Linked DNA regions of Homo sapiens. The protein of the gene in region 4 purifies or fractionates together with the protein of the main gene of each other region. This does not show direct contact. Each region holds a gene or a part of one and is shown on either strand. Other genes may lie near its edges. The genes, in order: MPZL1, TTPAL, FLVCR1, NHLRC3, EIF2AK3, KIRREL1 and OGG1.

Region 1 (4,339 bases), on a different chromosome or scaffold from region 4:
TGTTGATGCGCCACTTAGAAAGTACGTTTGATAGAGCTTGGAAACATTGATGCAGGCTTGAAAGAGGAGGTGGATAAAATGATCATAGGTTTTGGGCTTGGGAAGCTGGGCATATTTTTGGCCTTTTCACAGATGGGGAAATAGGAGTCTTGGGGGAAGAAGATGATGGAGATACTTTTGAATATGTTGAGTTTGAGATGCGGGTAAGACATCCAAATGGAGATGGGCAGAAAACAATTGGATAGACAGTTCTGGAGGTGAGGAGAAAGTTCTGGTTGGAAATGGAGATTTAGAGAGTTATGTGGCTAATAGTTAAAGCTTGGATTGTTTGGATGAGGGCATCCAGGGAAAATGCACTGAAGAACATAGCAGAGAGCCAAAGACGGAGTTTTGGGGTATATGAAACCTGACAAAGAGTCTCTGTGAGTAAGAGAAAAACCAGGTGAGTTTGGTATTTCAGCATTGTCAGATGAAGAGAGATAAAATGTGATAAGAATTCACTGAATTTGGTAATTGAAATGAGCACATAGTATATGAGGACTAAATCTCAGTAATTTGTACCATCCATGTCAGTAAATGGAACCTCCATACATCTAATTGTGCAGGCCAGAAACCTAGGGTCCATCCCTGATTCTTCCCTGTCCTTCACATCCAATCAGTTCTCCCATCTTTAAAATGCATCTGGAATTGATGTTTTTTCTACCTCCACTCCTAGCCTTTTAGTCAAAGTCACCACCATTTCTTGCCTATATTACTGTGATAGCCTCCCAGCTGCTCTTCCTCTTTTTCCCCCTCTGGAGTCTTGCTCTGTCTCGCCCAGGCTGGAATGCAGTGGCACAATCTCGGCTTACTGCAACCTCCATCTCCCAGATTCAAGTGATTCTTCTTGTGCCTCAGCATCCCAAGTAGCTGGGACTACAGGCATGCACCACCATGCCTGGCTAATTTTTGATTTTTCTATTTATTTTTAAATTTATTTTATTTATTTATTTTTTGGGGGATGGAGTCTCGCACTGTTGCCCAGGCTGGAGTGCAGTAGCGTGATCTCGGCTCACCACAACCTCCACCTCCCTGGTTCAAGCGATTCTCCTGCCTTAGCCTCCCGAGTAGCTGGGACTACAGGCGCATGCCACCATGCCCAGCTAATTTTTGTATTTTTTAGTAGAAACTGGGTTTCACTATGTTGGCCAGGCTGGTCTCGAACTCCTGACCTGGTGATCCACCCGCCTTGGCCTCCCAAAGTGCTGGGATTACAGGCGTGAGCCACCACATCTGGCTGATTTTTTTATTTTTAGTAGAGACAGGGTTTCACCATGTTTGCCAGGTCTGGAACTCCTGACCTCAAGTGACCGGCCTGCCTCAGCCTCCCAAAGTGCTGGGATTACAGGCATGAGCCACCACGCCCAGTACTCATCTTGGTTCGTTTTAATCCATTCTTCACAAAACTGCAAGAATGATTTTGTTAAAATGCAAATCAGATCATGTTGCCTTCTTTTTTAAAATCCTTAATGGCTTCCCATTGCACTTGGAATGAAATCTAAACTTCCCATGGCCTGAAAAGCTCTTTGTGATCTGGTTTCTGCTTACCTCTATGACCTCAACTTGTACCACCCACCACCCCTTTCTCACTATATTCAAGCCACACTGCCATCTTTCTGCTCTGTGACACTCATTCCCACCTCCTAGCCTTTGAACTAGCTGTTCTGATGTTGCCCAGGGCTGGCTCCTTTCCATCACAGAGGCTCTAAGTTTCACATCTTTAGAGAGGCCTCTCTGACCACCTTATTCTAGGGTACTTACCTGTTACTATTTGCTGGTTTGCCGTTTACTTCCTTATTGTAATTTCTATATGGTTTTTCTTCTCTTTTTTTTCCTCCATCAGAATCTGGGACAGACAAATCATCTGTCTTGTTTATAGAAGTATTCCTAGTGCTTAACACAGTGGATATGGTAGATGCTAAAAATATTTGTTAAATGGCAGTGAGGCATAGGCATGTCTTGACAACAGTTTGTTAGGAGTTTGCAATATGTAGTTATGATTTAGCATGGTATAGTAGGTCCTCAATATGTGTTTATGCAAGAAGAATATTTTTCCAAAGTGTGATTTCATGCACTGCTTATTTCTCATTATCAGTTCCCTTGGCCTTTTACTTATTTACTAGTCAGGATAGTAAAATAGAAACTTAGTCTTATAAAATATGTATATTTTTTACTCCAACTCCAGGATATCCACTAGGCTTAGATGCTGCCAAAAGAAAAAGATAAATGTTAAGTGAAAGACAGCTATGTGCAAAAGAACATAAAATGCAAGTTTGTGTTTTCATTAAGTCTAATTTATTTACTTATTCAACGTAAATGAACACCTACTGGGCACAAGGCACTGTTTATGTATGGGATGCAGCAGGGAGCCTAGATGCTAGTGAGAAGTGACAGACAGGAAACATCTACTCAAATAAATAATACCAAAGGACAGATTAAATTCCCAACAATCACAACTTTTAAGAAAATATGATTGATCTAATATGAAAATTTGCAGCAAATTTTTGAAAAATGGAACATCTTATTTGTATTATAAAATATTTTTAAAACTTATAAGGGATATGTTATAGGGTTTCTTTAAAGATTGGTCTTTCCCACTGAGTTTTAAAAACATGATTTAATTGGGAAAAACATAGCTTTTCAGAAATATTGCTGTTTCCCCTCTATCCAGTAGATGCTGGTCTACCTACTAAATATTTCTCACCATCCACTTTGCATCCACACTGGAGCTAATATAGTACAGCCACAGTCATGTCTCTACTGGATGATTAGAGCCTTCTAACTGGAGCCTGACTGTTTTTGAGTTATATCTTTTATCTGAGAATTTGAATTATTTGTGTAAGACATACATCTCATGTGTACCTCAACCTTGGAAAGATTTTTAATCTTGCTCTCTAAGACCACAGATGTCATTTTAAAAGGGAGAGTAAAATGGTAAGCTTTGGCATATAATTTATTATAGATTAGTCTTTAGCCCCATCGAAGACGGTATAATTATTAGAAGAACTAGAAGCATCTCCTGAGGTCTCAAGTGTCATATGGCTCTGAGACTTGACCCCTAAGGCTGGTGATATTAAGCCTTCATGTATCTTGAATGATATTCCTTTTTTCCTTTTCCACTCTTACTTTGCTAAGTCGTTTGACATTAGCAGTGCCCTAGAGTCCAGACAAAAGTCTTTGGAATTTTTGCTGCCGTAAGAAAGCAGAGGTCAGTTGGCTCCGTTCACCATAGTGCATAAATTGAGAAATTGTGGTTGTCTCCTGGGATCTTTATATCTTTGCCTTTAAACCCCTTTGTTTATTCATTATCTTTTTTCTTTCTTTTCCTTTTTTTTTTTTTTGAGACAGAGTCTCGTTTTGTCGCCCAGGCTGGAATGCAGTGGTGCAACCTCGGCTCACAGCAACCTCTGTCTCCCAGGTTCAGTGATTCTCCTGCCTCAGCCTCCCAAGTAACTGGGATTACAGGCATAAGCCACCACGCCCAACTAATTTTTTTTTTTTTTTTTTTTCTGAGGCAGAGTTTCACTCCTGTTGCCCAGGCTGGAGTGCAGTCGCGCCATCTCGGCTCATTGCAGCCTCTTCCTCCCACGTTCAAGCGATTCTTCTGCCTCAGCCTGCCGAGTAGCTGGGATTACAGGTGCCTGCCACCACGCCTGGCTAATTTTTTTGTATTTTTAGTAGTGATGGAATTTTGCCATGTCGGGCAGGCTGGTCTCCAACTCCTGACCTCAGGTGATCCACCCAAAGTGCTGGGATTACAGGCGTGAGCCACCGTGCCCTGCCCAAATTTTTTTTCTTTTTTTTCTTTCTTTCTTTCTTTTTTTTTTTTTTTTTGTATTTTTAGTAGAGATGGGGTTTCACCATATTGGCCAGGCTGGTCTCGAACTCCTGACCTCAGGTGATCCACCCGCCTCGGCCTCCCAAAATGCTAGGATTATAGGCATGAGCCACCGTGCCCAACCTATTCATTGTCTTTTTCAATGCATGTGGCTACTGTAATTTTTTATTCACTTAACAATTTTTTCTTGATCCCATTAGGCCTTTATCCAAGATGATTTCATTGATAAATCCTCCTTCAGTAGGTTTCTTCTTCTAAACTCAGAGTCTCTAGAAACTGTGATACCTTATGATACCTCTGATCTTATTGTTAGAACATAGAGCTTGAGTAATTTTGTAGCAACAGTGATACACTGAATCCAGTACTTAGGTTTAATTGATTGGAGTTAGAAATGCAGTATGTCTTTGCCTATCCTGTGTATTGCAGATAAGATTGCCCCATAGAATGAAATCTATGACTTAA
Region 2 (4,339 bases), on a different chromosome or scaffold from region 4:
CACCTTTGCTTGTGTAGTTTCAACCCTTTGCTTGTGAGATGAATTTTTTCCCCATATGTCTGGAGCAGATCTGGACCCCTTTCCACTGACCCAGCGTTTTAGGAAGAGGCATACACAGAAAGGTTTCTTCTCAATTGGGTATCAGCTTTGCCTTTGTTAAAGCTCTTTTGAGACATGTGATTGAAAGGGATGATATCCAGTTACATAGAGGCAGGGTTAATTGGCAGCAACGTTAGACAGCAAGCTGGCACAATTTGGGGACAAAGATCTTTCACGAGAATTTTGCACATATCAGGTCAGGTGTGGTGGCTCATGCCTGTAATCCCAGCACTTTGAGAGGCTAAGGCAGGTGGATCATGAGGTCAGGAGTTCCAGACCAGCCTAGCCAACACAGTAAACGGCCCCCGCCTCCCCCCAACCCCCACCCCCTGTCTCTACTGAAAATACAAAAATTAGCTGGGCGTGGTGGCACATGCCTGTAATCCCAACTACCCCGGAGGCTGAGGCAGGAGAATCGCTTGAACCCGGGAGGCAGAGGTTGCAATGAGCCGAGATCACGCCACTGCACTCCAGCCTGGGTGACAGGGCAAGACTCTGTCTCAAAAAAAAAAAAAAAAAAAGTTTTTTGCACACATCACATATCCCATTGTTGGCAAATGGGAAGTTTTATCTTTTAAGAAAGAGGCACATAGATTTTGCTGGGATTTTCTTGAGAACAGTGGTTAACAGTAAAAAGTGGGCATTCTCATTTTTTTTTTCCCAAAGAGAGGAAAGAATCATTAAATACATGGGGTGTATTAAAAAAGTATCCACCTTGGAAAGAGGAGGGGAACATAGCACTATGTTCCATCCTTACAATACCTCCGTCAAGGTCGTGTATGAGTCAAGACTCAGCTTTTTTTTTGAGACAGAGTCTCGCTCTGTTGCCCATGTTGGAGTGCAGTGGCGCGATCTCGGCTCACTGTAACCTCTGCCTCCTGGGTTCAAGTGATTCTCCTGCCTCAGCCTCCCAAGTAGCTGAGACTACAGGTGTGCACCACCATGCCCAGCTAATTTTTGTATTTTCAGTAAAGACAGGGTTTCACCATGTTGGCCAGGCTGGTCTTGAACTCCTGACCTCCAATGATCCACCCACCTTGGCCTCCCAAAGTGTTGGGATTCCAGGCGTGAGCCACCACATCTGGCCAAAACTCAGTCTGTGTGGCAAGTGACAGCCAACTCACGTTAGCTGAAACAAACAAAAAAACCTCAGTTGCTCAGATAACTGAGGTCTAGCCGTATTTCCATTCAGGGGCCCAAACTCTGGCACTGGAAAGCTGTCCCCACCACTGCTGTCCTCAACAGGGGCTTCACTCCCAGGCCAGCTCTCTTGCCTCATGGGGCCCGTGAATCTCAGACTCACCGCCTCAAAACTACAAGAGGGAAGACAGAACTCTTTCCAAAGGGCCAGGGGTCCTAGAATTGAGTCTCCTTGACTCTGCTTGACCTGGCTTGGATCACACACTGTGGCCAGAAGGATGTGCTGTCAGATTGGCCAATCAATCCCCAGTCACTTGCTCACCTCTGAAGTCAGGAGTCAAGTCAGTTCTATCCAAACTGCATGGCTAGAGTGGGAGGAGGTGGTTCCCTAAGGAAAATCAGGTTAGTGCTATGAAGATAAGGGGAAATACATGATGGCAGAAAGCACAGATGTCCATGAAGGTAGGCATTATCACCCTATTCTACTTATGAGGACATCGGGGCTCAGAGTGAGGTATTATAGTAACTTGCCCAAGGTCACATAGCTAGTAACATTCAAACCTCAGGTGTGTCTGACTTCAGAGTGCATACTTTTTTTTATATTTTTGAGACAGGGTCTCACCCTGTCACCCAGGCTGGAGTACAGTGGCATGATCACTGCAGCCTCAACCTCCTGAGCTCAAGAGATCCTCCCACCTCAGTCTCCCAAGTAGTGAGACTACAGCCACACCCCACCATACCTGGCTAGTGTTTGTATATTTTGTAGACATGGGGTTTCGCCATGTTGCCTGGGCTGGTCTTGAATTCCTGGGCTTATGCTTAATTCCTCCCACCTCGGCCTTCCAAAGTACTGGGATTACAGGCATGAGCCACTGTGCCCAGCCAGAGCTCATGCTCTTAACCTCAACACTCAATTGTATTTCCATCACAAAATGTGCTGCTGTTTGGAGTTAAGAAACCAGCTGCTGCTTATTGTTCCATTTACTAACCTAAATAAGAGTCATGGCTACTAGAATATCTTTCTTTTCCATTTTGAAACAACAGTGATAGAAAGGAGATAAATCTTTGTTTGACCACTTATTTATATTAACTTCTGTAACATACTGTCAATCTCTTATGACCTTAGACAGATGGATACCAAGCAACTATCCAATTACTGAAAACATCCGAGCCATATACTTGACCTTAGAAAAACTCATTCAGTCTGAAGAAACCCAGGTGAATGGAATTGTAATTCTTGCAGACTACAAAGGAGTGAGTTTATCAAAAGCATCTCACTTTGGCCCTTTTATAGCCAAAAAGGTGATTGGCATCCTCCAGGTAAGACCCGTATGTGTCCTGCCTGTTTCGTGGTGGCTCTGGCTTTCCCCAGGGCCTGTCCATTTACTGTGGGTCTCACATGATACACAAACTGCACATCCCACACCTGCAATCTGAAAAACACAAAAGCATTATGGGAAGAAATTTAAAAGTCCTATTTACCACTTGTTCTCATCAGTCTCTCAAGTACTCTCTGGAGTAGGTACTTCAGTAAGACAAGAGTCCAAAAAACTAGAGAATTTGCTTGTTGCCTTTTCTTGGTCTGGAAGGCAGAGGAAGAATTCTCATAACAAACAAAACTGGCTGGGCGCGGTGGCTCACGCCTGTAATCCAATTCTTTGGGAGGCCGAGGCAGGTGGATCACTTGAGGTCAGGAGTTTGAGACCAGCCTGGCCAACATGGTAAAACCCCATCTCTACCAAAAATACGAAAATTAGCTGGGCATGGTGGCAGGCACCTGTAATCCCAGCTACTTGGGAGGCTGAGGCAGGAGAATCATTTGAACCCAGGAGGCGGAGGTTGCAGTGAGCTGAGATCGCGCCATTGCACTCCAGCCTGGGTGAGAACAGCAAAACTCTGTCTCAGAAAACAAACAAACAAAAAACCTAAGAAATTATGCTTCTGCGTAAGGTGCTGGAGCCCCTCCTGCCCTCTGTGGACCTGAGGGATATGGTGTTCTGTTGGGCTGTATTTTGGTCAGATGCTTCACACCTCATGTTCTGTGTTTCAGAACATGAGTCACTGGGGACTGTGGTGCTCCCTCCATATCTGCACCGTGTTTAACAGCTTGCACAGTGCTTTTACAGTCATCAGGGCCTATTCAGTCCCTCAGCGAATCCTCTGAGATAGGCAAGGCAAAAACTATTTTTCCTTTTTGATAGATGGGAAGATGGAGACCTAGAGAAAATATAGCCTGTCACAGCTGTGACAGGTTTTGATTACTTGTTCATTCTGACCCACCACGTGGGGTGTTTTCCCTTGTAAACTATGGGGCACCGGTGGTATAGTAGCTCTTCTCACTGATTCCACAAATGTTTCAGCCCCTGTGGTGCACCAGGTTTATTATTTAAATAAATCAGTGCACATTTGGACATTATCAAACATTTGGATTCTGGCTTTGAGCCAACCCTGGCTTTCCTTCGCTGGCACTCCTTTTGATGCCTCCTCCTGAATACCTTGTAGATTCAAGTGTCAGGATCAAGAGTGTGGATCAGTGTTAGTACCGTAAGATCATCTGGAGAGGAGAAAAAATTAAGTAAGTTTGGGAAATGCTGTATAGCATGTCCCTTTCTTGTGAATTTCACTGTAAGAATTTACATGTTAAAGGCTCTGAACAGGAATGCAGTTAAGGAAACTCACTTGATTATGCTTAGTGGACTACGTTTCTCAAACTCATTTGCCTGCTGTGGAGCCCTGTTTTATATAACCTCTAATAGCCTGAGAAATATACTTTGGGCAACACTGATCTGGAAGGTCTGGTATTTGCCAGATCTGTCCCTGTAGACTCAGACTGTTTTCTGCTGTAAGAGCAGCAGCTCTTCATATGTTTGCCTCTCTTCTTTTTTTTTTGAGATGGAGTCCAGGCTGTCATCCAGGCTGGAGTACAGTGACACGATTTTGGCTCACTGCAACCTCCACCTCCAGGGTTCAAGCAGTTCTCCAGCCTCAGCCTCTCCAAGTAGCTGGGATTATAGACACGTGCCACCATGCCCAGCTAATTTTTGTATTTTTAGTGGAGATGGGATTTCACCATGTTGGCCAGGCTGGTCTCGAACTCCTG
Region 3 (4,339 bases), on a different chromosome or scaffold from region 4:
CAGCACTTTGGGAGGCCGAGGCAGGCAGATCACAAGGTCAGGAAATCAAAACCATCCTGGCTAACATGGTGAAACCCCGTCTCTACAAAAAATACAAAAAATTAGCCGGGCGTGGTGGCGGGCACCTGTAGTCCCAGCTACTCAGGAGGCTGAGGCAGGAGAATGGCCTGAACCCGGGAGGCAGAGCTTGCTGTGAGCCGAGATCACGCCACTGCACTCCAGCCTGGGCAACACAGCAACATTCCGGCACCCCCCCCCAAAAAAAAAGAAGCAACCCTTCATTTCTTCAGGTTTTACCATAAGATGCAGCAATTCAGTTACCTCTTCATATTCCACTTCTAATTCCAGTTCTCTTGTTATTCCCACCACATCTGCAGCTATTTCCTCCACTGAAGTCTTGAACACCTCAAAATCATCCATGAGAATGGGAATTAACTTCCTCCAAACTCCTGTTAATGTTGATAGTTTGACCTCCTCCCATGAATCAAGAATGTTCTTAATGGCATCTAGGATGGTGCATCCTTTCCAGAAAGTTCTCAATTTACTTTGCTCAGATCCAAGAGAGGAATAATTATTTCTGGCAGCTACAGCCTTTTGAAGTGTATTTCTTAAAGAATAAGACTTGAAAGTTGAAATTACTCCTTGATCCACGGGCTGCAGAAGGGATGCTGTGTTTCCAGACATGAAAGCAACATTGATCTCCTCGTACATCTTCATCAGAGCTCTTGGGTAAACAGGTGAATTGGTCAATGAGCAGTAGTATTTTGAAAGGAATGTTTTTCTCAGTAGCAGGCTTCAACAATGGGTTTAAAATATTCAGCAAACCATGCTACTAACAGATGTACTATCAACTACGGGGTTCAGGTTCATTGTTCCATTGTTAGAGCTTAGGCAGAGAAAATTTGGCCTAATTCTTAAGGGCCCTAGGATTTTCAGAATGGTCAACAAGCATTAGTTTCAATGTGAAGTCACCAGCTGCATCAACCCCTCACAAGAGAATGAGCTTGTCCTTTGAAGCCAGACATTGATTCCTCCTCTCTAGCTATGGCAGTCCTAGATGGCATCTTCTTCCAGTATAAGCCTGTTTCATCTACATGGAAAATTTGTGGTTTATTGTAGCCACCTTCATCAATCATCTTAGCTAGATCTTCTGGATAACCTACTTCAGCATCTACATCAGCACTTGCTGCTTCACCTTGCACTTTTATGTTATGAAGACAACTTCTTTCCTTACCTCATGAACTGACCTCTGCTAGTTTCCAGCTTTTCTTCCGCAACTTTCTCACCTCTTTCAACGTTCACAGAATTGGACAGTTAGGGCCTTGCTCTAGATTAGGCTTTGGCTTACGGCGATGTTGTGGCTGGTATGATCTTCTAACAAGACCACTCAAACTTTCTCCATATCAATAGGCTGTTTTATCATTTGTGTTCACTGGAGTAGCATTCTTAATTTCCCTTAAGAATTTTTCCTTTGCATTAGCAACTTGGCTAATTGTTTGGTGCAAAAGGACTAGCTTTTGGCCTATCTGGGCTTTTGACATGACTTGTTCACTAAGCTTAATCATTTTTAGCTTCTGATTTAAGAGGAGAGATTTACTACTCTTCCTTTTGCTTAAACACCTGGAGGCCACTGTAGGGGTAATAATTTGGGGGTATTAATCAGGGCCCTGATTTCAATATTGTTGTGCCTCAGGGAATACCATTTGAGATGGTAAAAGCATCAATGTAAAACTAATTTTAAAGATCTATTTTCACTTCTTAATTTTCTAGACTTGATTTGTTTGAATTAGTATTCATGAATCTCTTGTAAAAGTAATTTGAAGGAGGATTACAAAACTGCTCCCTTCTTTGGTATAACAATAATACTGTTTTTTTTTTTGAGACGGAGTCTCACTTTGTCACCCAGGCTGGAGTGGTGGTGTGATCTTCACCACTCACTGCAACCTCCGCCTCCCGGATTCAAGCAATTCTTCTGCCTCAGCCTCCCAGATTCAAGCAATTCTTCTGCCTCAGCCTCCCAAGTAGCTGAGATTACAGGTGTGTGCCCATAAAACTGGCTAAAGTTTTTTGTATTTTTAGTAGAGACACGGTTTCACTATGTTGGTCAGGCTGGTCTTGAACTCCTGACATCAAATGATCCACCTGTATCAGCCTCCCAAAGTGCTAGGAATACAAGTATGAGCCACCACGTCCAGCCAATAGTAATAATCTTAGATAAGATATAGTACTTGCCTAGGAATTAAGAACCAACATGGAATTACTTATGAAAGAACAATAGTTAAAGCAGTTAATGTATTACATATTTCACAGTTTTGTATGTTTTATTTTACTAACTGGACAGGGGGAAAAACTCCCTGTGATAAGATGTTTTTCTTTGAGGAAACAGAGTGCATTCACTTTCTTTTAGCTTCGTGAATGAATGCTCAGGTTCCTATCATTCATACAATTGAGTGAGCGACCTTAGGTAGTTGTGTATATCCAAAATGTCTATCACTGGTGAGATTTCATATTGAAGGTTTCACAAAGAATGATCAGGTATTCCACAAACAGTAGAAGAAATTCTGATTCACATCCTTCTGATAGATTCTCCAACTAAGTTATAACCAGATCCTCCAACTAAGTTATAACCAGATCAACGAAGCACAACCTCCCTTGGTATCTGCGGGGGATTGATTCCAAGACCCCACCTCAGATACCAAAATCCACGAATGCTCAAGGCCTTTATATGAAATGGTGTAGTATAAGCTTGTTCAACCTGTGGTCTGCAGCCCATATGTGGCCCAGGACAGTTTTGAATGTGGCCTAACACAAACTCACAAATTTTTAAAAAACATTATGAGATTTTTTGCAATTTTTTTTTTTTAGCTCATTAGCTATCATTAGTATTAGAGTATTTCATGTGTGGCCCAAGATATTTCTTGTTCCAATGTGGTCCAGAGAAGCCAAAAGATTGGACGCCCCTGGGAAGTATTTACATATAACGTACACACATCCTCCTATGTACTTAAACCATCTCTAGATTACTAATACCTAATACAATGTAAATAGCTGTTATACTATAATGTTTAGGGAATGATGACATTTTAAAAGTATGCACCTGGAAAAAGTTCTGCTTCCAAATCTATTGTACACCCATGTGCATGGGCAAACTATGGATAAAAATTCTCTGACATTCTCTTTCTCTGGAGATTGAGCACTATTTTCTTTCCTGCCCATGTCTATGATGACTATACCTAAGAAGTATAAGCACTAGCTAAGGATTCCACATACTATTTCCACCACTACCACTTGACTGCTTACCATCTCTACCACATTATAACAATAGTAACACATGTTAGGCACGTCCCAGGTGCCAGACACTAGGAACTTTTCATGAACCATTTCAATTAATCCTCACAGTAACCCTATAAAGCAGGCTTTAACACTCTATTATATAAATAAGGAAAGGAGGATTTGAGAGGTTAAGCAACGGGTCTAAAGTCACACTCCCACTGAGCAACAGAATCGGAATTTGAGGCCAGGTCTTCCCAACTCCAGGTCTTTACTACTCTTTTTTTTTTTTTTTTTTGAGACAGAGTCTCGCTGTTGCCCAAGCTAGAGTGCACTCGTGTGATCTTGGCTCACTGCAACCTCTGTCTCCTGGGTTCAAGCAATTTTCCTGCCTCAGCCTCCCAAGTAGCTGGGGCTACACGTGTGCGCCACCACAACTGGCTAATTTTAGTAGAGACGGGGTTTCGCCATGTTGGCTAGGCTGGTCTCAAACTCCTCACCTCAAGTAATCTGCCCGCCTCTGCCTCCCAAAGTGCTGGGATTACAGGCATGAGCCAACACACCCAGCCTTTACTACTCTTATTATAACAGTTTTGCTTGCTATGCAGAGTAACTGTATTGAATTTGAAATCTGCAAAATGAAGTAAGAGATTCATGTCTTTAGAAGAAAACAAATAATGTCCTGCTTTTTATCTCATTTTTTTCCCCTTGAGTTCTGTCAAGCTATTGAGAAGCAATATATATGAAAATTAACACATGACACAAGTCCTTTTGCCAGGCAAACGCCCTAATTTACCTGTTAATATGATGCCTATAAACATCCAGACACAGAGAAAAATGTTCCCTGCCTTAGGACCATAGTCTGATGTGAGCTTTCCTTGAGCCAATGTGAACAAAATTCCAAATATCTAAAATACAATAAGAAAAATCATTCGTTATTAAGTTAAATTATTTAAAGCAAGTATAAAGTTTTCACCAGAACTTTTCTTATTTTGGTTATATGATTTGGTTTCTAGAAACATTCATTGAAAAGTTGAATTGTTAAAACAAAAACCACGGTCAGGCTGGG
Region 4 (4,906 bases):
AGAGCTATTACGGATTTGTAAAGCCGGCTTTGGAACCGAGGGCTTTACAAATGTAATTCCCACGACACCGTGCTGAGTCTCAAATTTGGCGTTAACGTAACTTAATTTCTATTTGTACTGGAAACGTATCAAGATATAAACTCCTCCATTACACGTGAAAATTCAAACCAATTTGGCAATCCTAGGACCCTTATTCTGCACAATCTCCATACAGTACCTCAAAGAGAGTCTAAAACACGAGAATTCATCTCATAAAATAATTCATGGAATCGGTCTAATTACCTTTCTAATTTCATCCAGCACCATTTCAAAGGACTTTTTATCCATCTTGACTACTATCCCGACGTGGTTTTAACAGTTATACTTGCAATTAAAAGACGTTCATCCCTGGTCTGCTCCGCCGATAGTAAAAAATATTTATAGCTGAGGAGGAAAAAGACTCCACGAGCAAGAGAGGATGCGAAGAGGTAGAGAGTATTGCAAACTTCGCAAAAAAAATTTCTAAAAATTGAGATTCAGAAAAACTCTTTTTATTAAAAAGAAAAAACACTCCAGTCAGGCTTCCCCAGCTTATTCACACAATGGTTCAGGGCACCTCGGGCAAGAGCCAGGTCCTCTGAGTTTTGCAGAAAAACCCGGGCTCGGCGGCAGGTTTGAGTGCGGTTTCCCTGCAGCTGAGGGCCAGGTGCCGCCAGAGGTAGCTCTTGAAGGCGCTTTCCCAGGTGGAGCGGCCGGCAGAGTAGAAACACCTGCGCTCAGAGTCCACGGGCGGCGGGGAGGGAGGCGCCGGTCTCTCGACCCGCACCTGCGCCTCGGCCGCCGGCCGCGACCCTCACCGCCGCGAACCCGGACGCATGGTCCGGCTCGCGCTCATCCCCAGCCGCTCCGCCCGACTCCTGGATACCTCGGCCCCGGCAGCAGGCGGCCCGGCAGGCTCTTTGTTACCAGCTGCTGCAGCTTCCGGGAGCGGGCCGGCGGCTGGGGAGCACCAGGAGCCGGGCGAAGAGGGGCACGGCCTCGCATAGGGGGACTCCGGAAAAACGCAGCCCCAACAGCGCCAGACGCCCTGCCTGGTTACCCCTACAGCCCCCACCAGCTCATGGGGACCTACAATAAAGCCAGTCGCGCCCAAGTAAACTCAACACTGCGCCGCCAGCTTGGGCCCCTCTTTCCTGAAAGCCAGAGGTGGGGTCCTGGTGTGGGAATATAGGCATCCATAGCGGATGCCTGGATGGTAGGAATAGGATGTGGCAAAAATCCTTCCCGAAGCCTAGCGGTCATTATTTTGAATGTCATCCCCACCATACCTCGTGTCTGAGTGTGCGATGTTTTGATTTTGCCCTCTGGATTAAAAAGAATAAATGGCGAGCGATTAAGGCATATCTACGGGCGCCCATACTTTGGTGGCCACTGAAAGTCAGCGGCGCGGACTGCCCTGAGGGCGGGAAAGGGTGGTCACTGGGTCAGCCCGAAGCACCTGACATGAGGGCGGGGACCCCGAAATGCACACGAAGTCCGGAACTGGTCTTCTGTGATTTTCATTCGCCCTGGTCTCTGTTCCCTTTCGTACTCAAAGCTCGTGCATCCAGGGAGGGGAAACCGGAGATAGGGTCTTCGGGCCCCGGGCAGACCCTCTGTGCCGCTGCAAACCGTTGCAGCCTGAGGCTGTCAGGTCCTCCCCCAGACACCTGCGGACCCTCCCTCTCCTGGCTTCCCGTCTGGTCATGGCGAGATTCTGGGTCTGCGTAGCCGGTGCTGGCTTCTTTCTTGCATTTTTGGTTTTGCATTCGCGTTTTTGTGGCTCTCCAGTGAGTTGGGTAGTGAGGAAATGACTGTCGGGTGTGCGGGTAGCCCTGTTGGGAGGCGTCGCCACGGTCGTGGCATGGAGGTGGCAGGCCCTGGTTCCCTCAGTAGCTTGTCTCAAAGCCTGCACCTGGGTCCAAACTGCCTTGACCCTTTGAGTTTAAAAATTTGTGTATGTTACATCGCCATTTTCCTCTTTCCCAACTCTTACTACATCCTCAAATAATTTGCAGACTTGTATTGTGGTCGTGTTGGTCTTTAGGCATCTAAGCTCATTTCTTTGGAATTATTTCAGTCCAGCAAACTTCTAGTTGTCAAGGCATGCTTAAAAATAAGCCCTGTTACCCGGCCCCCCCGCCCTTTTTTTGTTCTTACCTAGACGGTAAACTAAATCTGAATTGTCTGATTTTGTTTAAGGTTTTGAGGAACTTTACTTTTGCAGTTTCCTGGAGAACTGAGAAAATTCTTTACCGGCTGGATGTGGGTTGGCCTAAGCACCCAGAATATTTTACCGGAACAACATTTTGTGTTGCAGTTGACTCCCTCAATGGATTGGTTTACATAGGTCAAGTAAGTAAATAGAGATTTAAAAAAATTATGAACACAAAGGAAGTAACAGCCTTCCTGTCTTGCTGTAGTAACTGACCATATGCGTTTATATCATGCTAATTGTGCAATTTATTTTTGAGTTGGTCTCAAGTATTTTGGTTTCGAATGTGAAAGATATGTTAGATTTTGAAAGTGGTTTTTGTAGTAAAATTCTCAGTTATTTTTTTTCTTCGCCAAGATACAGATTACCTTTCCTTTAAGCTGATCCTAAGAAGTTATTTTTTGTATACCTTCAGAGAGGGGATAACATCCCAAAGATATTAGTGTTCACAGAGGATGGATATTTCCTACGAGCCTGGAATTATACAGTTGACACACCTCATGGTATATTTGCAGCCAGTACTCTATATGAACAATCCGTCTGGATCACGGATGTAGGAAGTGGTATGTATAGTAATATCTATTAAATTATCTTACTGGAAATCACATCTTTGCACATGTCCTTGTTTGTATTGTTTAAAATCAGAGTTGCTGAATCTAATTGTAATTTCTTTAACGATTCATGAAATCACATGTTTTTAACAAACTTTATTTTGTACTTCTGTGGAATTAAGAAATTTAACAAGGGCTGGACGCCGTGGCTCACGCCTGTAATCCCAGCACTTTGGGAGGCCGAGGCGGGCGGATCACGAGGTCAGGAGATCGAGACGATCCTGGCCAACACGGTGAAACCCCCGTCTCCACTAAAAATACAAAAAAAAAAAAAAAAAATCAGCCAGGCGTGGTGGCGGGCGCCTTTAGTCGCAGCTACTGGGGAGGCTGAGGCAGGAGAATGGCGTGAACCCGGGAGGCGGAGCTTGCAGTGAGCCGAGATCGCGCCACTGCACTCCAGCCTGGGTGACACAGCGACACTCTGTCTCAAAAAAAAAAAAAAAAAGAAAGAAATTTGACAAGGAGCCTGTTAATATGATCTTTCCTTGAACTTGTCTAGGGTCTTTTCCTCTTTAAAGCATCAGTTGCTCTTCTCAGATTAAATAACTCTAAACTGAAGCCAAATAAAGTGGCAGTCTCTGAAAGCAATGACTGGAATCCTTGACTCTTATTTTCCTTTTCCAGTTTTCTTTCATAAAAGATTGTGAAATCGTAACTGCTTTGTTGCTCAAAGTGCAAAGATTGCAGAAACTGTTGTTAATGTTTTTGAAATTCTACTGACTGAAGCATGTCTGAAATCTTCCTGCCATCAAATATTTTTAGTAGAAAAAGCTGAAAAATGAAGTGAGCACAACTGAATGTGCAGCTATGGAGAAAGTTTTCAGAGAAACAATTCACCTGTGGCTGTAGCTTAAGACAAGGCAATACCTGAGATATCCTGGCATTACCCTAGGAATTCAGGAAGAAATGGGATTATAAAGACATTATTTCTAGTATTCCTTGGCCCAGTTATGTTCTTGAATTGAGAGACATCCTGGTTCTACAGTCCTGGCTGATTCAGATACCATTTTTTAGAGATAATGAGTTCTCAGTTTCTGTAAGTAGTGCCATTATCACAGCTGTTCTCAGAACCCATAAGATTTCTGGGCCTCAGCTGATGGCCCATTTATTTCATGCTGTGTTTTACATAGTATGAATCTGGTTCAACCAAAAAAAGTCTATAGATTATCACTGAGTGAATTGTTAATACTATAATGAGAGTCTATTTTCACTTTTTTCCTGAAGATCCACTGTTAAAGACCATTTCTTTGAGTTCATTTTATTCATGTGATTTTTAAAAATAAGACTTCCTTGATTCCCAGAAATAAAAAGAGCACAGACGATCTCTTCATTTTTTCCATTACAGCTAATTTTCTACCCAGAGATCTGAAGACAGTTTTATATTCCCATTTCCCAAAGGAATAAATTTCCTCTAATGAAAAATATGGCTACAAATTAGCCTTTTTTTTTTGAGAAAATTTTTTATTGGTAGTCTTTTTTGCTAGTTTTTAGAAACTTGGAGGCTTATGTGTTTTTTATTGCTATGAACTTTAGCTCAACTGTCTAAAAGTGTAATAGTAAATAAATTATTTAACATAGAATTGTAATGCAAGCTGATTCACTTTCTTTCTGGTAAGCTCAATGTATCCAGTTTGTCTTTTGAATACCTATCAATTAATTTGGCATATGTACCTTCAAATTGATTTCTGTTCACTGCTTTATGATATTCCCTTATTAGTAGTCTGCTTTATGCTCTTGCTTGTAAGATAATTTTAACTTAAAGAAATTTTAACGTGAGAAAATAAGATACTCATGATTTACAAAGATTATTTTCTTCTTAGCAAAGAAAAGTTGGGTTGAATTTTGAATGTCTCCACAAGGTGAAAATGCAGTTAAAAAAAAAATCTGTACCATAGAGAACGTTTTTGTTGACTTACTGAAATTTAAGGTCTGTATGTGAGTGATTGAAATAACAGTTTCAAATATAAGTTGTTCCCTTTACATTTTCTTCTTGATTTCCTTTCATAAGCAATGCTTATTCAAGGTCATAAGATTAAAAAAGAAAATGGTGCACCAATACTTT
Region 5 (3,500 bases), on a different chromosome or scaffold from region 4:
GCAATAGACACTGCAGAGTACTGGCCGGGGGTGAGTTGAAAAACTACCATTGGGGCCAGGTGCGGTGGCTCACGAGGTCAGGAGATCAAGACCATCCTGGCCAACGTGGTGAAACCCCATCTCTACTAAAATATAAAAAAAAATTAGCCGGGCGTGGTGGTGCATGCCTGTAGTCCCACCTACTCAGGAGGCTAAGGCAGGGGAATCGCTTGAACCCAGGAGGCAGAGGTTGCAGTGAGCCAAGATCACGCCACTGCACTCCAGCCTGGCAACACAGCGAGACTCCATCTCAAAAAAAAAAAAGAAAAACTACCATTGGGTACTATGCTCACTACCTGGGTGTAATATACTATGTAACAAATCAGCACATGTACTTCCTGTATCTGAAATAAAAGTTGAACTTAAAAAAGGTATGGCATTTAGAACAAACACAGCCAGGTGCAGTGGCTTTCCTTTGTAAACCCAACACTCAGGGAGACTGACGCAGGAGAACTGCTTGGAGGGCCAGGAGTTTCAGACCAGCCTATGCAACATACTGAGACTCCAAATGTACAAAAATACTTTAAAAATTAGCCGGGTATGGTGGCAGATGCCTGTAGTCCCAGCTACTCAGAGGCTGAGGTGGGAGGATTGCTTGTGCCCAGGAGGTCGTGGCTGCAGTGAACTGTTATTGCACCACTGCAGTCCAGCCTAAGTGTTAGAGTGAAATGCTGTCTCCAGAAAGAAGAAGAAACATAAACAGAGATAAAAAGTGAAAAATGAACACCTCCCAAAACAGGAAGAATATAAGGTTATTTATCTCCCCAAGACCACTTGCCCTATTTTGAGGGTTCCAAGATCAAGATGAAAAACTCTTAACTTATTCAAGAATTGAAGGAACTGCAGAGACAGCTTTTCCAGTGGAAAGAACCAAAGCCTAAGTCAGACCTGGGTGTACATCCCCAAGGCTCTCCTCTCATTCTCCTCATGGCTTCATTCGAGTTATTTTTTCATAGGCAAAATATGGTTATTTCACCTATCTCAGTGTAACCCAAGTGTACCTGATCATAAAAATAATCTGGAGTGCTTGTTAAAAACCATTAAAGGTTCCCACGTCTCATCCTAAGAGGGAGACTGGGAGAATGTAGCCTAACAAGCACCCCAGGTGAGTCTCATAAGACCAGTTGTGCAAACACTGTTTTACCTTAGTCATTTCCATAGAGAAAAATTAAATTTATGATGTGGATGAAGAAGGCATATTGAACATCTCTGTCAGTAAATACTTTGGAGACTTCTGTCTCTCACTTACATTTTGCTGTAGCTTACAAAAGCATTTATTTGGATGATTCCTCAGCAAGCCCTGAACTCTCACCCATGATCCAATCCTTGGAAGCCACTCTCAAGAAAGATTTTCAATGGTTTCCTAACTGCCAGATTCACTCCCCTCATCAGGCCTGTCTTCACAAAAGCCACCGTTGTGGCCAGCTCCTCATTCTGGACATTTTTCTTTCCTGGTTTCTACAGGACCAGTCCCTCCTGGGTCCTCATCTATCATTCTTTTTTTTTTTTTTTGGGGGGACGGAGTCTTGCTCTGTCGCCCAATGGTACGATCTCTGCTCAATGGCAACCTCCGCCTCCCAGGTTCAAGCGATTCTCCTGCCTCAGCCTCCCAAGTAGCTGGGATTACAGGTGCCCACCACCATGCCCAGCTAATTTTTGTATTTTTTAGTAGAGGTGGGGGTTCACCATGTTGGCCAGGCTGGTCTCGAGCTCCTGACCTCAGGTGATCTGCCCGCTTCAGCCTCCTAAAGTGCTGGGATTATAGGCGTGAGCCACCGTGCCCGGCCTCACCTATCATCCTTATAGTTTTCTATCTATAGAGCAGGCATTTTCCTGTTTGTACTACATGTTCTACCTAGATGGTCAATGTCTACAGCTTCACCTCCATCTATAGTATGACAGCCCCCAAACCTGTACAGGATTTATAGTTCACCATCTCTCCCCTATCCTAGTTCTGCATCTTCAGCAGGATCTACTTGTTATCACCATAACAGGCTCAGGAAACTTCTTTCCCACAATCTATTCCTGCCACTTAAAAGGGTAGCCATCCATCCTATTACCTAACATTTAAATCAGACATCAACTCTTTGTGCTCCCTCATCCTCTACATTTAAACAACAGCCATGTACTCTTAATTCTATTTCTGAAGCTTCTCTTAAATCTTTTCTGGCTGGGCACGGTGACTCACCCCTGTAATCCCAGCACTTTGGGAGGCCAAGGCGGATGGATCACCTGAGATCAGGAGTTCAAGACCAACCCGGCCAACATGGTGAAACCCTATCTCTACTAAAAATACAAAAGTAAGCCGGGTGTGATGGCATGCACCTGTAATCCCAGCTAATTGGGAGAGGCTGAGACAGGAGAATCACTTGAACCTGGGAGGCGGAGGTTGCAGTAAGCTAAGATTGCACCACTGCACTCCAGCCTGCACGACAGAGCGAGACTCCGTCTCAAAAAAAAAAAAAAAAAAAATCTTTGCCTTCTTCATTACCACAGCTCTTGCTCTAGAAGATTCTCATTTCTCATCAGAACACCTTAAAATGCTTTCTAACACATTTTCCTGCCTCAGGTTTCTTTCCCCTCTCTTCTTCCCACAGTTTTGTTTCTGTAATAGAGATCTGATAAACTTCCAAGGTTCCCTGTGCCCACTGAAAAAGAAAGGTCACACTGCTTGGTGTGGCACATAAAGCCTTTCACAATTTGGTTTCGGTGTACTTTCCTAATCTCATTTTTCTGCCTCTTGTACCAGCCCAACCCTCTCTCCCCTCTCCTTCCCAGCTCCACACTCCCCCCTTTCCATGGGGTGAACTTTTCAAAAGTTCTCTTGTCTATATTTTCCTCCATGTCTTAAATTATTCCACCTGCCAAATGAACACTGTGTATAATAAATTCTCCCATCTTTAGAGGAAATACTTAAGAACCAATCAAAATATTCAACATTTCTTGAAAGAACTGTAATTACTATATAAGGTTTTATATAATTCTAGTTCAAAGCAAAGGAACTTCACTTTTTAATGTACCTTCTATTAAATATTTAATTTCCATTAGGTTATTTTAAAATACTGGCAGTCTCATGGATCCCCATTTTTATCTTTGCAGATCTGTAGGGGTCCTGGAGCCCTGGCTTAGGAACCACTGCTCTGTGCTCACTGTACAAACTCCCTGCTCTGTGCCCTTGCTCACACTATTCTGTTGCCTACACTGTCCTTGATATTTTTCTCATTCCGGGACTCAATAACTTGCCACTTCCATTCTTTTCACTCACACTACTTTTATGTCACTTATTATCCATTCGAGGATAGTTAATTCTTTAACACAATGATCTGTCAGGCTTGGAGCTTCCTACGGAAAAGACATTTATCTACTCTCAGGGCCTAGCAGTACCTGGGCCCCAGTAAAACTAAATAAATGTTTGTTGAATGAATAAACCTTGGTAGGACAAACATATTATCTACACAAAA
Region 6 (4,339 bases), on a different chromosome or scaffold from region 4:
CAGTGGCTTGGTTCAATCCAGGAAGAACCTGGAAAAGGAGAATATCAAGGGGAACCCTAGATGGAAGAGTGCCTTGTTTAAAAGCTTGCAGGCCAATGAAGGAGAGCTACATAGCAGGAGAGCCGACTGGCTTGTTTCGAGGGCATGGTGGGTATTGAAGGTATGGTCCTTGCTGGCCTGCCTGGGTGACTTGGGTGGATGAGAGAACAGGGAGAGACCCCAGGAGTAACTTTAAGCTGAAAGAGAGACAGGGACGGTTAGTGCAGCTGGAGGGGCTTTACACGCCTGGGCAAACACCTGGGCATGGTGTCTCCTCGGGGCTCTACCCATCCAGGATCTTCCTCCCGGGTGTGGCAGCAACATGTGACCTTAGAGGGGCCTGAGCAGACCAGGAGGCCCTTCTCCCTTCACTCTTTCCTCTCCTTGTCTTTCTCTTAAATTCTCAAACACCCTGCCACCTGCAGCACACGGAGGCAATAAGAAGGCATGACACTTCCTGCATCCCTTCCTGCGTACCTGCTTACCCACAGCCTTTGCTCATGGCAGCTGGGGGACCCAGAGACTAGGCAGGGCAGAAATGAGGAGTGGGCTGTGCCCAGTGCCTGGTATCAGCCTCCCTGCATGATGTCAGCCTTATAGACTCCTCTCCTCCCCAGCCATCCCCCTCAGCAGCCCCCCAGCTCCCCAGGCCAGGGGCCCTCTTCACAAAATGGCCTCTGTCATTCTTCCTTAGGGTAGGACTTTGAAAAGAAGCCTCCCACTCCCCCGCAGATGCAGACATAACATAGATATACAGACCTCCAAAACCATGGTGATGAGCATGACTTCTGGGTCAGGCAAGCCTGGTCCACATCCTAGCTCTGCCCTCTAACTCACTCTCCTGTCTCTGAGCACATTTGTTTATCCTCTTCGAGCCTCCGTTCCTTATCTGTAAATTGGGGTTAATATATTTACCATGAAAGGAATAATGAAATATACTTTGTGGTAGGGATTAAATGAAGTCATATACAGGAGGCACTTTGGCTGACACAAGGTGAACGTTCACTGAGTGGCAGAAGTTATTGTCGATCCCACCACCATTTACAGTTGGCTTCACCTTCTTGATTTTGTTTTGCAAAATCAGGGGAGTAGGTGTCCATTGTATTTTTGAAGTTTTATAAACAAGGAGACTGAGGCTTTTTTGACCACAGACTCAGGGGCACATGAGTTTGGGGAGGCACATGAGCATATTGATATACAGATTTAAGTCACAAACCATAAAAACTTGCTTATAAACACATGCACACATGGACACATGCCCTTTAACAGCTGGCTCAGCAGGCACCTTAACAGCTTTATTGTCATTTGTCCCATATATGAGGGACGAGCTCATATATGAGGGATGAGCTCACGGAGGATGGGCAGAGAGTTTGGAAAATTCAGAGAAAGGTAGACTGCTGGCAGAGGTGACAGATGGGTAGTCTTTGCATGAACAAAGGGGCAGGAGGCATTCCCAGGGTAGAGGAAGCTGATGCCTTCCCAGCGGAGGGGCTTCACACACCCGGGCACACACCTGGGCATGTTGTCTGCTCGGGGCTCTGCCCATCCAGGATCTTCCTCCTGGGTGTGGCAGCAACATGTGACTTTAGAGGGGCCTGAGCAGACCAGGAGGCCCTGAGCAGCAGCTCTTTATTCATTTCTCTCCACCTTTCTCTACTTTTCAAGCTGCTCCCCATCCCCATCCTCAAACCTGTCCCCATCTGGCATTGGAACCAGATACACCACAGAACAAGGAGGAAGAGCCAGGGATTCAGAGGATAATTAGCCAGGCAGGAGTTGGAGCCACTGCTACTCTCGTCCAGGCAGTAAGGCTAATACATTCCATACCTCACACATGCCCTGCACATCATAGTCTATGTATAGTATCTCATCTGACCTTCATGAGGCTCTAGTGAGTATGGTTATGTCTTGGTTTCTTCTCTGATGAAGAAACTGAGACTCAGTGATTTTAGGAACTCATCCGAGATCACACAGCAGGTAAACAAAGGTGCCAGGATTTGAAACCAGGCAGTCTGAATCTAAGTTTTATTCTTTTTCCACTATACCACTAGGCACACATGAGTTGAACAGAATGCTAAGACAGGTTTCGAGTAGTTTCTACTGGAAACCCCAGCATAGAGACCTTCATTGTGTAAATTCTAGAACAGCCCTGTCCACCACTGGGCACCGTGGGTCTCCCAAGATCTCCTCTTGAGTGTTCCCTCTGCACACTCCTCTCGAGTGTTCCCTCTGGACCCTCCTCTGGGTCTTTCTTGTCTTTCCCAGAAAGAAGCAAACAAAATCTTTTATCGGTGGAGCACGCTGGCTCATGCTTGTAATCCCAGCACTTTGGGAAGCTGAGGTAGGAGGACTGCTTGAGCCCAGGAGTTTCAGACCAGCCTGGGCAACATAGCGAAACCTCGTCTCTACAAAAAATAGAAATTAGCCAAGCATGATGGTGTGTACCTGTAGTTTCTGATACTTGGGAAGCCGAGGTGGGAGGATTGCTTGAGCCCAGGAGTTCCTTTCTCATTTATGGTTGATGAACACTGGGGGGACCAGAAAAATTATAATCAAAATCCTTCTGCCTTTATTTCATCAGTATCCATTCATTAATTCAGCAAATATCCCTGAGCACCTGTGATCACCCAAGCCCTGGGCTAGACATTGAAGTGTTGATGGTATATCAGAAGCAGCCGCTACCCTCAGGGAACTTACAGTCTGGTTTGTCTTAGAAGCCTATGGAGATAGGGGAGGGAGAGCCCCCCTTGTTTGCAACATCATACATCGGTCAATTGAATTCTTTAAACATTTAGCAAGAGCCTACTTGGTCACATTCTAGGCACTGGTGACCATATAAATATTAGTGAGACAGGGTTGCTGTTTTTCCAGGGGATCACAGTTTTGGTTGGGGCAGGGTTCGATAACTGTTATAAGTAAACAAAATCCAAGGCGCTAAGAGCTCTGAGTGACTGGTGGGGGCCACCATGGTGGGGGTGGGCTACAGCATGGAAAGCCTTGTGCATCAACTGGGATTTGAACAGGATAGGAAGCACTTCAATAGAAGCTGTGGGAGAAGGGCATGCCATATGGAAAGCACTGCAATGCAGGTCTTGGCTTGAGGACCCTGAACAGGAGGCCGAAATGCTTGGAACTTATGCCCTAGGCAGTTGTAGCCATTGAAGGTGCTTGAGCAGGGGAGTGGCACATACTTAGCTGTGCTGAAGGGAAAAATAACCTGCTAGCAGTGTGACATGGAGGTTACTGTAATAGGCCAGCCCATCTGTCTGCTCCAGGGCAGAGGAGCAGACAGGAGGAAGGATGGGAGAAGTGCTATGGAGGTAGCCACCTTTCCGAGCCAGACTCCCAAGACTATGAGCTGTACTCAGGGCCTGAGATAGCCCAGCCCTTTCTTAAGTTTGAGGCTTCCATCTGTAGTGTGCAGCTCTGAGCAACTGTAGGGGTATGGAGCCAGGCACAGTGGTTCACGCCTGTAATCCCAGCACTTTGGGAGGCTGAGGCAGGTGGATCACCTGAGAGGTCAGGAGTTCGAGACCAGTCTGGCCAACATGGTGAAACCCCTACTCTCTACTAAAAATACAAAAATTAGCTGGGAGCAGTGGTGGGCGCCTATAATCCCAGCTACTTGGGAGGCTGGGGCAGGAGAATCGCTTGAACCCAGGAGGTGGAGGTTACAGTGAGCTGAGATGGCACCACTGCACTCCAGCCTGGGCGACAGAGTGACACTCCATCTCAAAAACAAACAAACAAACAAACAATAAACCAGTAGGGGCATGGAGTACCAGAAAATATTATAGGCCAGGAAAGAAAAGCAGACAAGGACTGGGAAAGATGTGTGAGCTGAGGACCTAGAGGAAGCCACCACAAGAGCAATGAAGACAGTGGTTGTAGATTAGGGGGTAGGGTGGTACCGCCTACCTAGAGGCGCACATGCAGGTGGAAGGATGCTTCCAGAGGCAGGAGTTTTGGTCTTCAGGGAAGTGTTAGCCACACCCTGCACTGACTTTGCTCTGCTTTCTCCCACAGTCCCCCCAGAGGACACCAGGATTGACGGAGGCCCTGTGATTCTACTGCAGGCAGGCACCCCCCACAACCTCACATGCCGGGCCTTCAATGCGAAGCCTGCTGCCACCATCATCTGGTTCCGGGACGGGACGCAGCAGGAGGGCGCTGTGGCCAGCACGGTGAGCTCCAGCCAGCTCCCCCAGCTCCTCCTGGGCCTAGCCCAGCTCACCTCTCCTTTCCCACAGGGGTTTCACCACAGACTCAGGAGCACACAGACATGAGAGGGGTCTTAGAG
Region 7 (3,317 bases), on a different chromosome or scaffold from region 4:
ACACCCACTTTACAGACAAGAAAACTGAGGCTTTGAAAGGTGAAGTGACCTGGCCAAAGTCACATGGCTGAGAATAGGCAGAACCAAGATTTAATGTTAGGCTGTAGTCCAAAGCCCATCAAAAAAAAATCTTTAAGCAAAAATTCATTTTTTAAACTACAGAGAAGTATAAAGAAAAAAAAAGGCTGGGTGCAGTGGCTCACGCCTGTAATCCCAGCACTTTGGGAGGCTGAGGCAGGTGGATCTCGAGGTCAGATTGAGACCATCCTGGCCCAACATGGTGAAACCCCATCTCTACTAAAAATACAAAAATTAGCTGGGTGTGGTGGCGCATGCCTGTAATCCCAGCTAATCTGGAGGCTGAGGCAGGAGAATAGCTTGAAGCCGGGAGGCGGAGGTTGCAGTGAGCCGAGATTGCACCACTGCACTCCAGCCTGGCAACAAAGCAAGACTCCACCTCAAAAAAAAAAAAAAAAAGACAAATGCCTAATTTCCAGTCATCTTATTGCCAGTTAACCCTATTGACATCAAGCAAAAAGTTTTGTCAGTACATGTCATTTTACGAAAGGAACAAAATGTGGCCGGGAGCAGTGGCTCATCCCTGTAATTCCAGCACTTTGGGAGGGCAAAGCAGGAACACTGCTTGAGGGCAAGAGTTTAAGACCAGCCTAGGCAACATTGTTAAGAGCCTATTTCTACCAAAACAAACAAACAAACAAAAAACCGAAAAGAAGAAATATCTTCCCATTTGTCTCCCCCAAGGAAACTATTATTTAGTTTCCTGCAATTTCCTTCTGGAAATTGCTGCATATATATAGCAGCATATATGTGTTGCATCTGAACAAATGGTCTTTCTAGAAATTCATTCAAAGGGCTATATCCTTTCTACTCTTTCTGCACTCTGCTTTTTTCTCTCATAAAACATCTACTTATATCCTTTCTCCTTCCTGCTCTGCCTCCGGAAGCCAAGCCTCCACCCAGCTCCCAGGCTTGGCTCATTTCCTGCTCTCCTCTTAGTGTCAGTAGAGAGGGCAGCTCCTACCCCCTGGGGCCTCACCTTGGTGCCCACTCCAGGCAGGATGCAGAGGGCCTTGTGGGCCTCCTCATATGAGGACTCTCGTAGCTGCTGCAGCCAGGCTAGCCCGCCCTGTTCTTCCAGGATGGCTCGGGCACTGGCACTCACGTAACGGGCACGATAGCCCAGGCCCAGCTTCCTGAGATGAGCCTCCACCTCTGGCCCTGCGGGGAGTGAGGAGGAGGGCAAGCATCAGGCATCTTCAAGTTCTTCCTGTCCTTAGGCTAGTAAGTGAGCTCTCTACCTCACAAGAGTGCTTTTCCTAAGTTCCCCTCCTACCTCCCCACCCTCTATGGGATAGTGGACACTTTTATGTGCAAGGGAAAGGGTTAGGCCTGGGTCCTGTCCCTCTACACATGTTTTCTGAGCACCTGCTATGAATTGGCCCCGGAGCCCAAGTCTAGTCCAGGGACTGAGGACTTGCTTCCCTTGAGGAGCTCCCCAACTGAGTTCCTTAACCTTTCCGAAAGAGTGTTCACACTCATGATCTAAAAAAATAACCACAATATAGCAACAGCTTCTATGATCAAGTGCTAGGCAACATGCTTCAGATATATTATCATGCTTACTTTTCCCAAGAACCCCACTGACAGTACTGCTGTTTTCCCATTTTACATGTGGAGAAAATGAGGGCTTAGAAGAGGTTAACTTACTTAAGAAAGGACATGGGGGAGATAAGATCTTGCACCTAGGTCTGGGACACCAAGACCTGTGCTTTTTCTTTTTTTGACACAGGGTCTTGCTCTGTCACCCAGGCTGGAATGCAGTGGCACAATCTCAGTTCACTACAGCCTTGACCTCCTAAGGCTCAAGCGATCCTCCCACCTCAGCCTCCTGAGTAGCTGAGACTACAGGCTTGTGTCACCATGCCTGGCTAATTTTGTTTATTTTTTGTAGAGATGAGGTCTCACTATGTTGCCCAGGCTGGTCTCAAACTCCTGGGCTCAAGCCATCCTCCCACCTTGGGCTCCCAAAAGTGCTGAAATTACCAGCATGAGCTACCCCACCTGGCTAACGCCGTGCTCTTAACCCATTACACTACACTGCCTCATGATTGCTTTATTCACTCCCAAAGCCCTTCTAGATAGAAACTGTTATTCCCATTCTACAAACAAGCTAAGAGAAGCCGGAAGAGGTGAATGACTTTCTTGAGGCCTTATGACTAACTAAGCCAGGAGCTGAGACTCAAGAACAGGTTTCTTTTTTTTTTTGTTGAGACAGAGTCTCACTCTGTCGCCCAGGCTGGAGTGCAGTGGCACGATCTCGGCTCACTGCAAGCTTCGCCTCCCGGGTTCACGCCATTCTCCTGCCTCAGCCTCCCAAGTAGCTGGGACTACAGGCGCCCACCACCACACCCGGCTAATTTTTTTTGTATTTTTAGTAGAGACGGGGTTTCACCGTATTAGGCAGGATGGTCTTGATCTCCTGACCTCGTGATCCACCCGCCTCGGCCTCCCAAAATGCTGGGATTACGGGTGTGAGCCACCACGCCCGGCCAGGTTTTTTTTTTTTTTTTGAGACGGAGTCTCGCCCTGTCGCCCTGTCGCCCAGGCTGGAGTGCAATGGCATGATCTCAGCTCACTGCAACCTCTGCTTCCCAGGTTCAAATGATTCTCCCGCCTCAGCCTCCTGAGTAGCTGGGATTACAGGTACCTGCCACCACGCCCAGCTAATTTTTAGCAGAGAGCGGGTTTCACCAGGTTGGCCAGTCTGGTCTCAAACTCCCGACCTCAGGTGATCCACCTGCCTCAGCCTCCCAAAGTGTTGGGATTACAGGTGTGAGCCACCGTGCCTGACCCAGGTTTCTTTTTGTTTGTTTTGAGATGGAGTCTCGCTCTGTAACCCAGGCTGGAGTGCTGTGGTCTGATCTTGGTTCACTGGAGCCTCCTGCTCCCGGGTTCAAGCAATTCTCCTGCCTCACCCTCCGGAGTAGCTGGGACAGGTGCCTGCCATCACGCCTGACTAATTTTCGTATTTTTAGTAGAGATGGGGTTTCACCATGTTGGCCAGGCTGGTCTTGAACTCCTGACCTCAGATGATCTGCCTGCCTCGACCTCCCAAAGTGTTGGGATTACAGGCGTGAGCCACCACGCCCGGCCAGGAATGGGTTTCTAAGCACCAAAAACATTCTCCTGTTTTGAGGCAGTCTGTCTCTTTGCTATGCAGTTCCCAAGCACTTGTCCTAGCTTGGTTCTCACATCTGCCAATCGATACACTTGCCTCTGTAAAACATTTGCCTTAC

The links.
Region 1: the proteins of NHLRC3 (region 4) and MPZL1 purify together in Homo sapiens (affinity purification with mass spectrometry; one large-scale study listed by BioGRID and IntAct). This does not show direct contact.
Region 2: the proteins of NHLRC3 (region 4) and TTPAL purify together in Homo sapiens (affinity purification with mass spectrometry; one large-scale study listed by BioGRID and IntAct). This does not show direct contact.
Region 3: the proteins of NHLRC3 (region 4) and FLVCR1 purify together in Homo sapiens (affinity purification with mass spectrometry; one large-scale study listed by BioGRID and IntAct). This does not show direct contact.
Region 5: the proteins of NHLRC3 (region 4) and EIF2AK3 purify together in Homo sapiens (affinity purification with mass spectrometry; one large-scale study listed by BioGRID and IntAct). This does not show direct contact.
Region 6: the proteins of NHLRC3 (region 4) and KIRREL1 purify together in Homo sapiens (affinity purification with mass spectrometry; one large-scale study listed by BioGRID and IntAct). This does not show direct contact.
Region 7: the proteins of NHLRC3 (region 4) and OGG1 purify together in Homo sapiens (affinity purification with mass spectrometry; one large-scale study listed by BioGRID and IntAct). This does not show direct contact.

Annotation. Positions count from the first base shown.
Region 1 is NC_000001.11:167,724,507-167,728,845, forward strand, and holds part of MPZL1 (myelin protein zero-like protein 1 isoform a precursor), read left to right. Parts: intron 1-4,339. UniProt on the Homo sapiens protein: Cell surface receptor, which is involved in signal transduction processes. Recruits PTPN11/SHP-2 to the cell membrane and is a putative substrate of PTPN11/SHP-2.
Region 2 is NC_000020.11:44,481,972-44,486,310, forward strand, and holds part of TTPAL (alpha-tocopherol transfer protein-like), read left to right. Parts: intron 1-2,365; coding exon 2,366-2,559; intron 2,560-4,339. UniProt on the Homo sapiens protein: May act as a protein that binds a hydrophobic ligand.
Region 3 is NC_000001.11:212,888,985-212,893,323, reverse strand, and holds part of FLVCR1 (choline/ethanolamine transporter FLVCR1), read right to left. Parts: intron 4,179-4,339; coding exon 4,067-4,178; intron 1-4,066.
Region 4 is NC_000013.11:39,036,916-39,041,821, forward strand, and holds the start of NHLRC3 (NHL repeat-containing protein 3 isoform a precursor), read left to right. Parts: upstream 1-1,540; 5' UTR 1,541-1,724; coding exon 1,725-1,808; intron 1,809-2,220; coding exon 2,221-2,373; intron 2,374-2,648; coding exon 2,649-2,796; intron 2,797-4,906. Other genes in the region: PROSER1 (proline and serine-rich protein 1), read right to left, coding at 283-327.
Region 5 is NC_000002.12:88,617,465-88,620,964, forward strand, and holds part of EIF2AK3 (eukaryotic translation initiation factor 2-alpha kinase 3 isoform 1 precursor), read right to left. Parts: intron 1-3,500. UniProt on the Homo sapiens protein: Metabolic-stress sensing protein kinase that phosphorylates the alpha subunit of eukaryotic translation initiation factor 2 (EIF2S1/eIF-2-alpha) in response to various stress, such as unfolded protein response (UPR).
Region 6 is NC_000001.11:158,080,357-158,084,695, forward strand, and holds part of KIRREL1 (kin of IRRE-like protein 1 isoform 1 precursor), read left to right. Parts: intron 1-4,065; coding exon 4,066-4,223; intron 4,224-4,339. UniProt on the Homo sapiens protein: Required for proper function of the glomerular filtration barrier. It is involved in the maintenance of a stable podocyte architecture with interdigitating foot processes connected by specialized cell-cell junctions, known as the slit diaphragm.
Region 7 is NC_000003.12:9,752,626-9,755,942, reverse strand, and holds part of OGG1 (N-glycosylase/DNA lyase), read right to left. Parts: intron 1,240-3,317; coding exon 1,058-1,239; intron 1-1,057. UniProt on the Homo sapiens protein: DNA repair enzyme that incises DNA at 8-oxoG residues. Excises 7,8-dihydro-8-oxoguanine and 2,6-diamino-4-hydroxy-5-N-methylformamidopyrimidine (FAPY) from damaged DNA. Has a beta-lyase activity that nicks DNA 3' to the lesion.